Linked DNA regions of Homo sapiens. The protein of the gene in region 1 interacts with the protein of each later gene in a biochemical or structural test. Each region holds a gene or a part of one and is shown on either strand. Other genes may lie near its edges. The genes, in order: ADAP2 and RANBP9.

Evidence for each region.
Region 2: the proteins of ADAP2 (region 1) and RANBP9 form a complex in vitro, tested with the Homo sapiens proteins (one study listed by BioGRID).

The regions. Positions count from the first base shown.
Region 1 is NC_000017.11:30,931,683-30,938,980, forward strand, and holds part of ADAP2 (arf-GAP with dual PH domain-containing protein 2), read left to right. Parts: intron 1-206; coding exon 207-286; intron 287-2,502; coding exon 2,503-2,615; intron 2,616-7,298. UniProt on the Homo sapiens protein: GTPase-activating protein for the ADP ribosylation factor family. Binds phosphatidylinositol 3,4,5-trisphosphate (PtdInsP3) and inositol 1,3,4,5-tetrakisphosphate (InsP4). Possesses a stoichiometry of two binding sites for InsP4 with identical affinity.
Region 2 is NC_000006.12:13,620,832-13,624,967, forward strand, and holds the end of RANBP9 (ran-binding protein 9), read right to left. Parts: intron 1,662-4,136; coding exon 1,531-1,661; 3' UTR 667-1,530; downstream 1-666. UniProt on the Homo sapiens protein: May act as scaffolding protein, and as adapter protein to couple membrane receptors to intracellular signaling pathways. Acts as a mediator of cell spreading and actin cytoskeleton rearrangement.

The DNA.
Region 1 (7,298 bases):
TGGTGGTGCCTGCCTGTGATCCCAGCTACTTAAGAGGCTGAGATGGGAGGATCGCCTGGGCCTAGGAGGTCTAGGCTGCAGTGAGCCGTGATCACGTGATCACACCACTGCACTCCAGCCTGGGCAACAGAGGGAGACCCTGTCTCAAAAAAAAAAAAAAAAGAGAATGCATCAAACGCAGCTGACCTCAGGCTCTCTCTTTTTAGGGTCTTAAAGGAACAATGGATTCGAGCTAAGTATGAGAGACGGGAATTTATGGCTGATGGGGAAACCATCTCGCTCCCAGGTAAAGTTATTTCCATCACCTTTTGAAATCTATGTTTTAATGAGCTCTAGAAAAACCAAGTGCCTAAATATTAGGAGCAAGATCCATCCAAGAGATGCCTGCTGTTCTCACTGTGGCCGCAGAGGCCAAGGTGTGGGTTCTTCTGACTTTGAAATAACAACACATCAGCTGGTGGGGCTTTATGCTCTGAGCAGCAGAGAAGCTCAGAGCTTCTATGGTCTTTGTCTCAGGTCTTTGCAGGGTCACAAGTGTGTACAGACTCTTTTTTTTTTTTTTTTTTTTGAGACAGGGTCTTACTCTGTTGTCCAGCCTGGAGTGCAGTGGCACTATCACAGCTCACTGCAGCTTCAATCTCCCGGGCTCACATGATCCTCCCACCTCAGCCTCCCAACTAGCTGGGACTACAGGCACATGCCACCATACCTGGCTAATTTTAGTGGCTTTTATTTTTTTATTTTTATTTTTTGTAGAGATGGGGTTTCACCATGTTGCCCAGGCTGGTCTTGAACTCCTGAACTCAAGTGATCCTTTCGCTTTGGCCTCCCAAAGTGCTGAGATTACAGGCATGAGCCACTGTGCCCAGCCAGACTCTTTTTCTTTTTCTTCTTCTTCTTTTTTTTTTTTTTGAGACAGAGTCTTGCTCTTGTTGCCCAGGGTGGAGTGCAGTAGCATGATCTCAGCTCAGTGCAGCCTCTGCCTCCTGGGTTCCAGCGATTCTCCTGCCTCAGCCTCCTGAGTAGCTGGGATTACAGCATCATGCTTGGCTAATTTTTGTATTTTTAGTAAAGACGGGGTTTTACCATGTTGGCCAGGCTGGTCTCGAACTCCTGACCTCATGATCTGCCCACCTTAGCCTCCCAAAGTTCTGGGACTACAGGCATGAGCCACCGCGCCCAGCATCAAACACTTAATGTAAATTGCAGAAAGACTCCTCCACTGGACAGACCAATTAGGAAAAGATATCCCTGCTCCTGGTGAGCTTTATTCCTGGTGCAGCTCAAGACTTGGTGAGGAGGATGGGCTTAAATTCAGCCTCCCTTTCGACCATTGTGCAGGGTACAACCTCTTCTGTGGCCCTGGACCTGTGGCAGTTTCACCCCCACGGTCCTGAGTCCAAGCTGACTCTGACCCAGACAGTAAAGTATAAAAAATCATTCTTAGAGGGCCAGAGGCAGTGCTCAGCTATCCTGGCTACCAGGACCACAAATTATTCTATTTATTTATGTATTTATTTATTGAGTCAGGGTCTCACTCTGTTACCCAGGCTGGAGTGCAATGGCGTGAACTCGGCTCACTGCAACTTCCACATCCCAGGTTCAAGTGATTCTCATGCCTCAGTCTCCCGAGTAGCTGGGATTACAGGCATGCACAACCACACCTGGCTAATGTTTATATTTTTAGGAGAGTCAGGGTTTTGCCATGTTGGCCAGGCTGATCTCAAACTCCTGACTTCAAGTGATCTGTCTGCCTTGGCTTCCCAAGGTGTCAAGATTACAGGTGTGAGCCATTGCACCCAGCCCATAAATTATTCTTCAAACCAGCAGATGCCCGGAGGGAGTCTCACTGTGTCACCCAGGCTGGAGTGCAGTGGCACAATCTCGGCTCGCTGCAACCTCCCCCTCCCGGGTTCAAGTGATTCTCCTGTCTCAGCCTCCTGAGTAGCTGGGATTACAGGCACGCGCCACCATGCCCAGCTAATTTTTGTATTTTTAGTAGAGACGGGGTTTCACCATGTTGGTCAGGCTGGTCTTGAACTCCCGACCTTGTGATCTGCCCGCCTCGGCCTCCCAAAGTGCTGGGATTACAGGCGTGAGCCACTGCGCCCTGCCTTACTTCTAAAGTTTCATTAGGTTGATGTCAGCATGAAGTTGGGCAGGACCATATGTATTTAGTATGTATTTAAGTGTCTTTCAGAATCAGTCCAGTTTCTCAGGACTTTGCCTTCTTAAGGGTCTTCTTATGAGACAGCCTGATACACAGAAAGTCAAGGAAGAAAGGTTTTAGGCAGTGGGAAGTGCCCCTGAAGTGAAAAGACATCACAAAGTTGGCCACAGATGGGATCCTTGTGTTCTGCAGCTGAAATAGGGAAGTCTGAGTGGAGATACTTTGGCAGCAGATGGAAGGCTTATTCCACCCTTGAGAACCTCAGAGGTTCCTGAGCTGCTTGTGATCTTAAGGTCACGTGTGTTCACGCTTTGTCATCCTTGCTGCTTAAGGTAACCGAGAAGGATTCCTGTGGAAGCGAGGAAGGGACAACTCACAGTTTCTGAGAAGGAAGTTTGTACTTCTGGCAAGAGAAGGCCTCCTGAAGTACTTCACAAAGGAACAGGTAAGATGCCAGACCAATGAGAGCAGGTCCCTTCCTGAGCACTCTCACCCGACTAAGGTCTACATTCTAATCAGTGGTGCCCTTTTCTTGTAGATAATCTCAGCCCCTGAGAGTTAGGCACAACATTTGGCTACTTTTCCTTGGCTATACAGTAAATCCAGTCCACCAAAAATCATACTTTCTGTCCACCTAGAATCAGCTTAGATAGGTCCATGTTTAAGCCTTTGATGACCACTTGGTTTTGCTTCATTTATTCATTCACTTAAGAAACATTTATTGAGTACCTACTGTGTGCTAGACATTATTCCAGGCACTGAGGATACAGCAGGGAACTAAACAAAACTCTTGTTCTCAGGGAGCTTTCAGTCTAGTGAAAGGAAAGAGCTCCGTAATCAAAACATCAATATATAATATACCAGGAGGCAATAGTTTTATAAAGTAAAATAGAAGTGGCTGCGCACAGTAGCTCACACCTATAATCCCAGCACTTTAGTAAGAGATTGAGGCAGGGGGATTGCTTGAGTTCAGAAGTTTGAGATCAGCCTGGGCAACATGGTGAAGCCCCATCTCTACAAAAAATACAAAAATTAGCTGGGTCAAGCACATACACCTTTGTATGGTGGCACATGCCTGTAGTCCCAGCTACTAGGGAGTCTGAGGTGGGAGAACTGCTTGAGCATGGGAGGTCGAGGCTGCATTGAGCCGAGATTGTGCCACTGTACTCTAGCATGGGTGACAGAGTGAGACCCTGTCTCAAAAAACAAAACAAAACAAAAACAAAAACAAAAACCGGGCATGGTGGCTCATGCCTGTAATCCCAGCACTTTGGGAGGCCAAGGCAGGTGGATCACTTGAGGTCGGGAGTTTGAGACCAGCCTGACCAACATGGAGAAACCCCATCTCTACTAAAAAAATATAAAATTAGCTGGGCGTGGTGGTGCATGCCTGTAATCCCAGCTACTCGGGAGACTGAGGCAGGAGTATCACTTGAACCTGGGAGGTGGAGGTTGTGGTGAGCTGAGATCGTGCCATTGCACTCCAGCCTGGGCAACAAGAGTGAAACTCCGTCTCAAGAAAAAAAGAAGTAAAATAGCGGAGAGTGAGAAGATAGACAACAATGAGAGTGTGTTAGGGAGTCAGGGAGTGCTGCTGCAGAGTGATCAGGGAAGGCCTCTCTGGTGACATTTGAGCAGATAACTGAACAAATGTGAGCACTGAGTTACATGGCTATGTGGGGGGAAGAATAGAAGAAAGGGGAGGAACAGTATGTGCAGAAGCCCTGAGCACAGGTATGGTCAAACACATACACCTTTGTACCGATTTGAGAAAGATGATCCCTTTAAGAGGGTGCAGCCCCTGGGCCCCAGTCTCGAAAATCAGAAGCCTGGTTTGCAGTTACCAGTCAGCTAGGAGCTTTTTATGCAGTGCACAAACGACTTAACCATAAGCTGCAACCCTGGCCCTGAGCTAGAAGTGTGTTTGGTGGGTGTAGGGCATCAAGGAGGGCAGAGCGACTTGTGCAGAGTGAGCAAGGAAAAGTGTGGAGGGAGATGAAGTCACATGGTGGAGGGCCTTGTAGGTCATAGCAAGACTTGGGATTTCTTTTGGTAACAGTTTATTGAGATACAATTCACATACCATATAATTCACCCATTAAAAGTATGCAGTCAATTGGCTTTTAGTGTATTCACAGAGTAGCACAACTATCACCACAATTCAGTTAAAAACTTTAAACACCTTATCCCTTAGCTGTAATCCCCCACCCCACCCCACCACTAGCCCTAGGCAACCAACAACTTACTTTCTGTCTCTATGGATTTGCCTAATCTGGTTATTTTTATTTTATTTTACTATTTTATCTTATTTATTTTTTTAGAGACAGAGTCTTCCTCTGTTGGCCAGGCTGGAGTGCAGTGGTGCAATCATAGCTCACTGCAACCTTAAATTACTGGCCTCAAGCACTCCTCCTGCTCCGGTCTCTCAAAGCACTGGGATTGCAGATGCATACCACTCCACCCAGCTAATTTTTATTTACTTATTTATTTTTGTAGAGATAGGGTTTTGCTTTGTTGTCTACGCTGTTCTCAAACTCCTGGCTTCAAGCAATCCTCTGCCTCAGCCTCCCAAAGTACTAGGATTATAGATGTGAGCCACTACGCCAGGCCCATATCTGTCTTTTTTATAATAGCCGTCTTCATGGGTATGAAGTCGTATCTCATTGTGGTTTTGATTGGCGTTTCCCACATGGCAAATGATGTTGAGCATCTTTTTAATGTGCTTATTGGCCATTTGTATATCTTATTTGTAGAAATGTCTATTCAGATCCTTTCCCATATTGGCCGGGCGCGGTGGCTCACGCCTGTAATCCCAGCACTTTGGGAGGCCGAGGTGGGCAGATCAGGAGTTCAGGAGATGGAGACCATCTTGGCTAACACAGATACTTTCCCCATATTTTAATTAGGTTATTTGTCTTTTTATTATTAAGTTGTAATAGTTCTGTATATATTCTAGATACAAGTCACTTATACATGTAGGATTTGCAAAAATTTGAGCTTTTGGATTTTACTGAGTGAGATGGGAAGAAATTGGAGGATTTTGAGCTGAGAAGTGATATTATTTGACTTAAGTTTTTGATTGATTGATTGATTTGAGATGGAGGCTCACTCTGTCACCTAGGCTGGAGTGCAGTGGCGTGATCTCGGCTCACTGCAACCTCTGCCTCCCAGGTTCAAGCAATTCTTTGCCTCAGTCTCTCGAGTAGCTGGGATTACAGGCGCGCACCACCATGCCTGGCTAGTTTTTGTATTTTTAGTAGACAGGGTTCCACCATCTTGGCCAGGCTGGTCTTGAATTTCCGACCTCGTGATCCACCCACCTCACCCTCCCAAAGTGCTGGGATTACAGGCGTGAGCCACCGCGCCCGGCCTATTTATTTATTTTTTGAGATGGGATTTCACTCTATTGCTCAGGTTGAAGTGCAATGGTGTGATCTCGGCTCACTGCAACCTCCACCTCCCGGGTTCAAGTGATTCCCCTGCCTCAGCCTCCCCAGTAGCTGGGACTACAGGCGTGCACCACCACACCCGGCTAATTTTTGTATTTTTAGTAGAGACAGGGTTTCACCATGTTGACCAGGCTGATTTAGAACTCCTAACCTCATGTGATCTGCCCACCTCAGCCTCCCAAAATGCTGGGATTATAGGCATGAGCCACTGCGCCCAGCCTGACTTAAGCTTTTAAAAAGCAGCACGCTGGCTGCTGCTAGGGTGAGTAGGGAGGAAGGAGGCCAGAGCAGAGGCAGAGAAATTAGTCAGGAAGCTGTTGCAATAACCCAAGTGAAGAAGAATGGTGGATCCGACCAGGATGGTTAGAAGTGGTCAGATTCTGGATATATTTTGGAAGTAGAGGCAATAGAATTTATTGAAGGATTGGATGTGGGGTGTGAGAGTAAGAGGAATCAAGGATGATTCCCAGATTTTTGCTCTATAAAACTACAAGAATAGATTTGCTATTTACTAAGGTGGCAAAGACTTAGACCCCTAAGGGGATGCTCAAAAGTCCTTTTTATTTTGAGATGCCTATGAGTCATCCAGTAGAGACATGGGGAAAGAAGTTGGATGTATGTTTCCTGAATTCTAAACCCAAGTGGCAGAAGTTGGATGTCTGATTTGGAGGCTTGGAGAGAGTTTGGAACTGGAGTCGTCAGCATGTAGACTGGTTTAGTAATGGGACTGGCTAGGATCACCTAAGCAGGAAAAAGGTGTTCAAGGACTGAGTATTTTGGTTATGTGTTGCTGAGTAACAAACCATCCTAAAACTTAATGGCTTAAAATATCAATTTACTATTTCTCACAATCCTATGGGTCAGGAATTTGAGGAGGCCTCGGCTGTTCTGGTGTACTCCATGTGGCATCAGCTGGGCTACTCTGCTGCCCTTAGCTGGCCAGAGACCCAAAGAAGCTTTCACTCATGTCTGGTGCCTTGGTGTACTCTATATGGGGGCTCTGTCTTTCTCATTCAGGAGTCTAGCTTAAGCTTTCTTGTGGCTTGGCTGCTGACTTCCCTAAACAAAAGCAAATGCTACCAGACCTCTGGAAGGCTAACCAGGAGCTGCATTCTGTTGGTCAAAGCAAGTCATGCAACAAGCCCTGATTCAAGGGGAGGGGAAATAGATTCAACCTCTTCATGGATAGAGGGTCACGTATACACTGGGAGGGAAAGACTGGGTGAGCGCCATCTTTGGAGACCATCTACCCCATTGAGCCCTGGGGCATTCCAGTATTTAAAGGACAGAAAGATAAGAAGTTTTCAGCAAAGAGAATGTGAAATTGTGGCCAACAAAGTAAGAGAAGGATAAGCTCTGAGCACTTTAGCCTTCACCTTACTCTATTTCCTATATGTAGAATTATTATATATTCCCCCTGTTGCTTTTCTAGGCAGACCAGAGCAATGCTAAAAGGTCTGTCTATGGGGAGGAGAAGGGAGGATGAAGAGAAGTGGGTTAAAGGGTACAAACATTGTAAGATGCAAGGAATAAATTCAATATTTGATACCAGAGTGGGGTAACTATGCTTAACAAAAATACTCTGGTGACCAACACCCTAAATATCCTGGCTTGATCACTACACATTATATACATGTAGCGAAATTTCACATGTACCCCATAAATTTGTATAAATAATA
Region 2 (4,136 bases), on another chromosome or scaffold:
ATGCTAAATGAAGAATCTGTACTTTGTATGTATAGAATTTATCTAATAAATCATTCATAGATCATTTTAAAGGATCATTATAAAAATCATAAACCTATTTGAGGAAGTGCTCAACCACATTTCATTCTTCTGGAGTAGAACTGTGCCTTGCAATCCTAGAGGAAAAAGTGGTTTAAGAAGGAATTGTTTTCTTTTTAATATATTTAACTGAATTCAAGCCATACCCACATCAGCAACAGCACCTCTTCTACTCTCCCCGGGTTAGAGGGGTGGCAAAAATGGCACGGACTAAAAGGAGAAATGGATATTCCAGCAAAGTCTCTAACTGCAGCCTGTAGACAATTTGCTATTAAAGATTCAGTGCACAAAATATAGCTAACAGCTTTTAAATTTTTACTTTTAACCAGTCTGGGGATTTGCTTGCCTGGTGAGTCTCATATGCCATATTATGAATATGAAAATAATGAAGTTAATTTCCTGTTGCCTTTCTGTGTCAGCCACAATATCAGGTCTAACCCTAATCCAGGGATGCCAGTAAACTGAAGGCAATTTTAGGTTGTAGAACTCAGATTAATTGTAGAAACCATTAATTTTAATTGCTCTAATTTTCATAGTAATCATAAAAAGTATGCAAGTACCTAATATATAAACTCAATTGACACTGTATCTGTAGAAGTAAATTTTTAATGGCTGGTTAATTATATCACTACATTTTATTGCAATATAGTACTCATTTAAGCACTTAAAAATGGAAGGTGTACAAAGATTAAATTAAGACACGGTAAATTGACTAAATATTTGGTTTTTATATAAATAAAGGTCATAACCACACCGTTGACATGTAATACTGTTATAATACAACAGTTAAACTTGTGAGTCTACAACAGAAGTCATCTGTAGTTAAACAGGAAACAAAGTTGAAAAAGACCATGTTAAAACAAAACTACTGGGACTAACAGGTCGGGATTGTAAGTAGCAACAAACATATTCACTCAGCTCCTGAGTATTTCAAGTTTTACAGTACACATTAAAAATGATTTCTTCCATCAACACTATAAATTCAAACTGTCGGATGTTTATGCATTTTGCAAGTTACACTGATTGAATGCTTATATGGGAGTGGGGGTCGGAACATCTCCCAATTTGAAGTTTACATCACCCACATGCTAACACAAACACAACTTGTTCCATTTCCTTCCCCTCTCTCCCCCCTCCCCCACAAAGAAGGCAGGATTTTTGGTTTCTTTTAGGTAATTGTTTTAAAGGATTTGTGATGATCAATTTGAACGTCTGAAATTCAGTAATATTTAACTCTTAGACAACTAAGAGGTTAAAGATGGAAAATAATTTCTCCTAACACTAAGTTAGAAAATCATTTGCATCATGCTGTAAACTAGGAAGCAATGTAAAGCGACAAAAACCTGTCCCCAGTACATAATTTAAAAAATCTAAATTTCAAATCAGCAGAGCTGGTCTACTTCCATGTTGACTATATGCCACAATATAAGTGTGAGCTCTTGAAATGCATAGCTAATGTAGGTAGTCTTCCACTGTGGCAAATGCGCAGGATCCAATTCCTGATCGAGCCATCAGTCCTAGACATTGTGTGGCCTGTCCCATTGCTAGGGCAAGTGGAGGTTGCTTTGGCAGATTGTGGGTTTCTGAGGAAAAATAATTTAAAAATGAGAACAGCAATTAGCAAGACATTTTAAAAAACATTTCAATCAGGAGAATACTGCAATGACTTTAAAAACTACCACTCCCATACCACTCTGAAATATCAGCAAATGAAGGTTTCTAAGCAAAAGACAGATGCCGCCTTGGACATACTATTCTGACAAGGTAGTGTGGGTATTGTGTATTCAACTATAAGATAAACTCTGGCAGAATCAGACTTTTAAAGTATCAGATACTAAAATACTTCCATATTAACTATGATGGGAAAGGTACAATTTTTTATCTGATATTTGGAGTGGAGAGTAAGGAATTATTTCCCTTCTGGTTGATCAAAGTCAGTTGATACTAACTAAAACTAAAAAAGGCACCAGGTTTTCATTACAAGTTTCCACTGATGGGTTCTTCCACCTCTGTGGATAGGACCAAACAGGCTGCCTAGCCATCTCCAAGGCATATATAGGTAATGTTATTTGGGCTGGTGGGGAGTAAGTGGTGGTGGTGACAGTGAGAGAACATACAGCAGAGCCACCCCACAGTTTTGGAGGTGCTAATTTACAGTGGACAGTTCAGACATTTAAAAAAATGCCAATAAATTTTCAGGGTCCTGCATATCATAAGTTTCTTTGTCAGACATTTGTAGTACAAATGCAATAATTAACAAAATTTGTTCCTTGCCAGAGATGGAAAAAAATGAACTAATGGTAAAAGTGGCCAGACTCAGAAGCTGGTAATTTCTCTTTATGAGAAGGCAATGTCCAAACTAATCAATAAAATTACTAATCAGTTCTTTATAGGCACAGTTGACAACAAAGGGCAAAAACAGTTGACACATGGCTAGGAAGGCTTCATATGGTTTAACTCCACTCTTGGTTCAGAGGATGCAATTTGATGGTGGAAGAAAGAAGAGGAAATTTCCAAAAGGGAAAAAGCACAATATCAGAAAGAAGCAAATTCAGGACTTAAAGGTAGAAGAGAAAACAAAAACAGGATTAAGAATAAACGTGTGCAAAAAAGGGCACATAGATTGATGAGAAAGTGTGGTGTCTTGAGGGTTCACAGGGAAGACCGTGCTCAAAGACAAACATCTACAGGGAATATTTTTTTAATTTTATTTTGGCCAAAGGAAGCATCTGGCGATGCATCTTTAACTTTTTTGGATGTATGAAATTTTCATAACACTATATAGATGGACCTACATAATATAGCATGGTATTTATAAACATATACATGCCCATCTATAGCAGTTTAATAATTGTGTCATTAATTTTACAGGAATCGCATACATTTATATTAATAAGATTAAGCACTATTTATGGCTGAATCTACATAATATAGCACAATATGTAAGAGTATATGTGTCTATAGATAATGGTGCTCAACAATTAAATTCCCTTGAAGAACTCAAGAAACTAAATTGTAAGAAAACTGGTCACTTTAAAGATTAGTATCATCTAATAATTAGGTCTTAATGATTACCTACAATATAACTTCAAAAAGACATTTATAGTAAACCATAATTTTCCTTACAATTCCAGCATTATTACTAAGTTACTTTTACCAACGGAGCTAAATGAATTTTGTAGAACCAATGAAAATATAACACATTAACCAAAGAAAATTCACATTTATATACAAATCCTAAATTCCGGAGAACTACAACACTGAGGACACTACTCCTATTCCCAAACTTCAGTATTGGTCCTTAACAAATTAATAAATTTTCTAAGGGCAAAGAAACAGACTGAGTCTTAAATATGAATGCTTTTCATTGCTTCCTTTACATTCTTGCTGTAAGAGTCCTGGCCCTCATTGCAAGTCTCCCTATCTAAACTACTCTTTAATCTACTTTTTGTGGCACTGCCCTCATCTTCCTAAACTAGTTTGAAATATGTGACTAAAAGTCCCTGAACCTTGCAGGGCCAAACAGCACAGCACAGACTTCTAAACTAGACTGGAGTCCCAATTACCTGGGAATTAGACTCTGAAGTCAAATGAAAACTCACTCTTTATATAAATTACCTTTGATGAGAACTGCCCAAAACTCAAACTTGTTTTATGTAAACAATCGACCCTATCACATTTATATAGAAATGCACAATATGTGCAGTTACACAATTCATATAAAAAGTACTTGTTCAGTATATAAATACTATAATCACAAACGCTACAGTGAGCTGCTCATAGGAATGGCAACCAAACGAACATCGAATTAGCGTTTCGCACTTGATGCTCACCCCTGGCTAAGCCTCGCCTTTTAAATTGCTTTTCTCTTCCTCACCCACCCTTTTTATTGGGTAAGGGCATGTAGTTGAATCCGGCTAATATAAATGCAAATAGAATGTGACATCAAGGCTTGATCCTGCCGGGTACTCACAAGTCATCAGGAAGCCCCTTGTGCCCATATTCATAAGCATGGTGGGAGCTGTGATACCAGTGGCTTAGGCTGCTGCTACCCATTG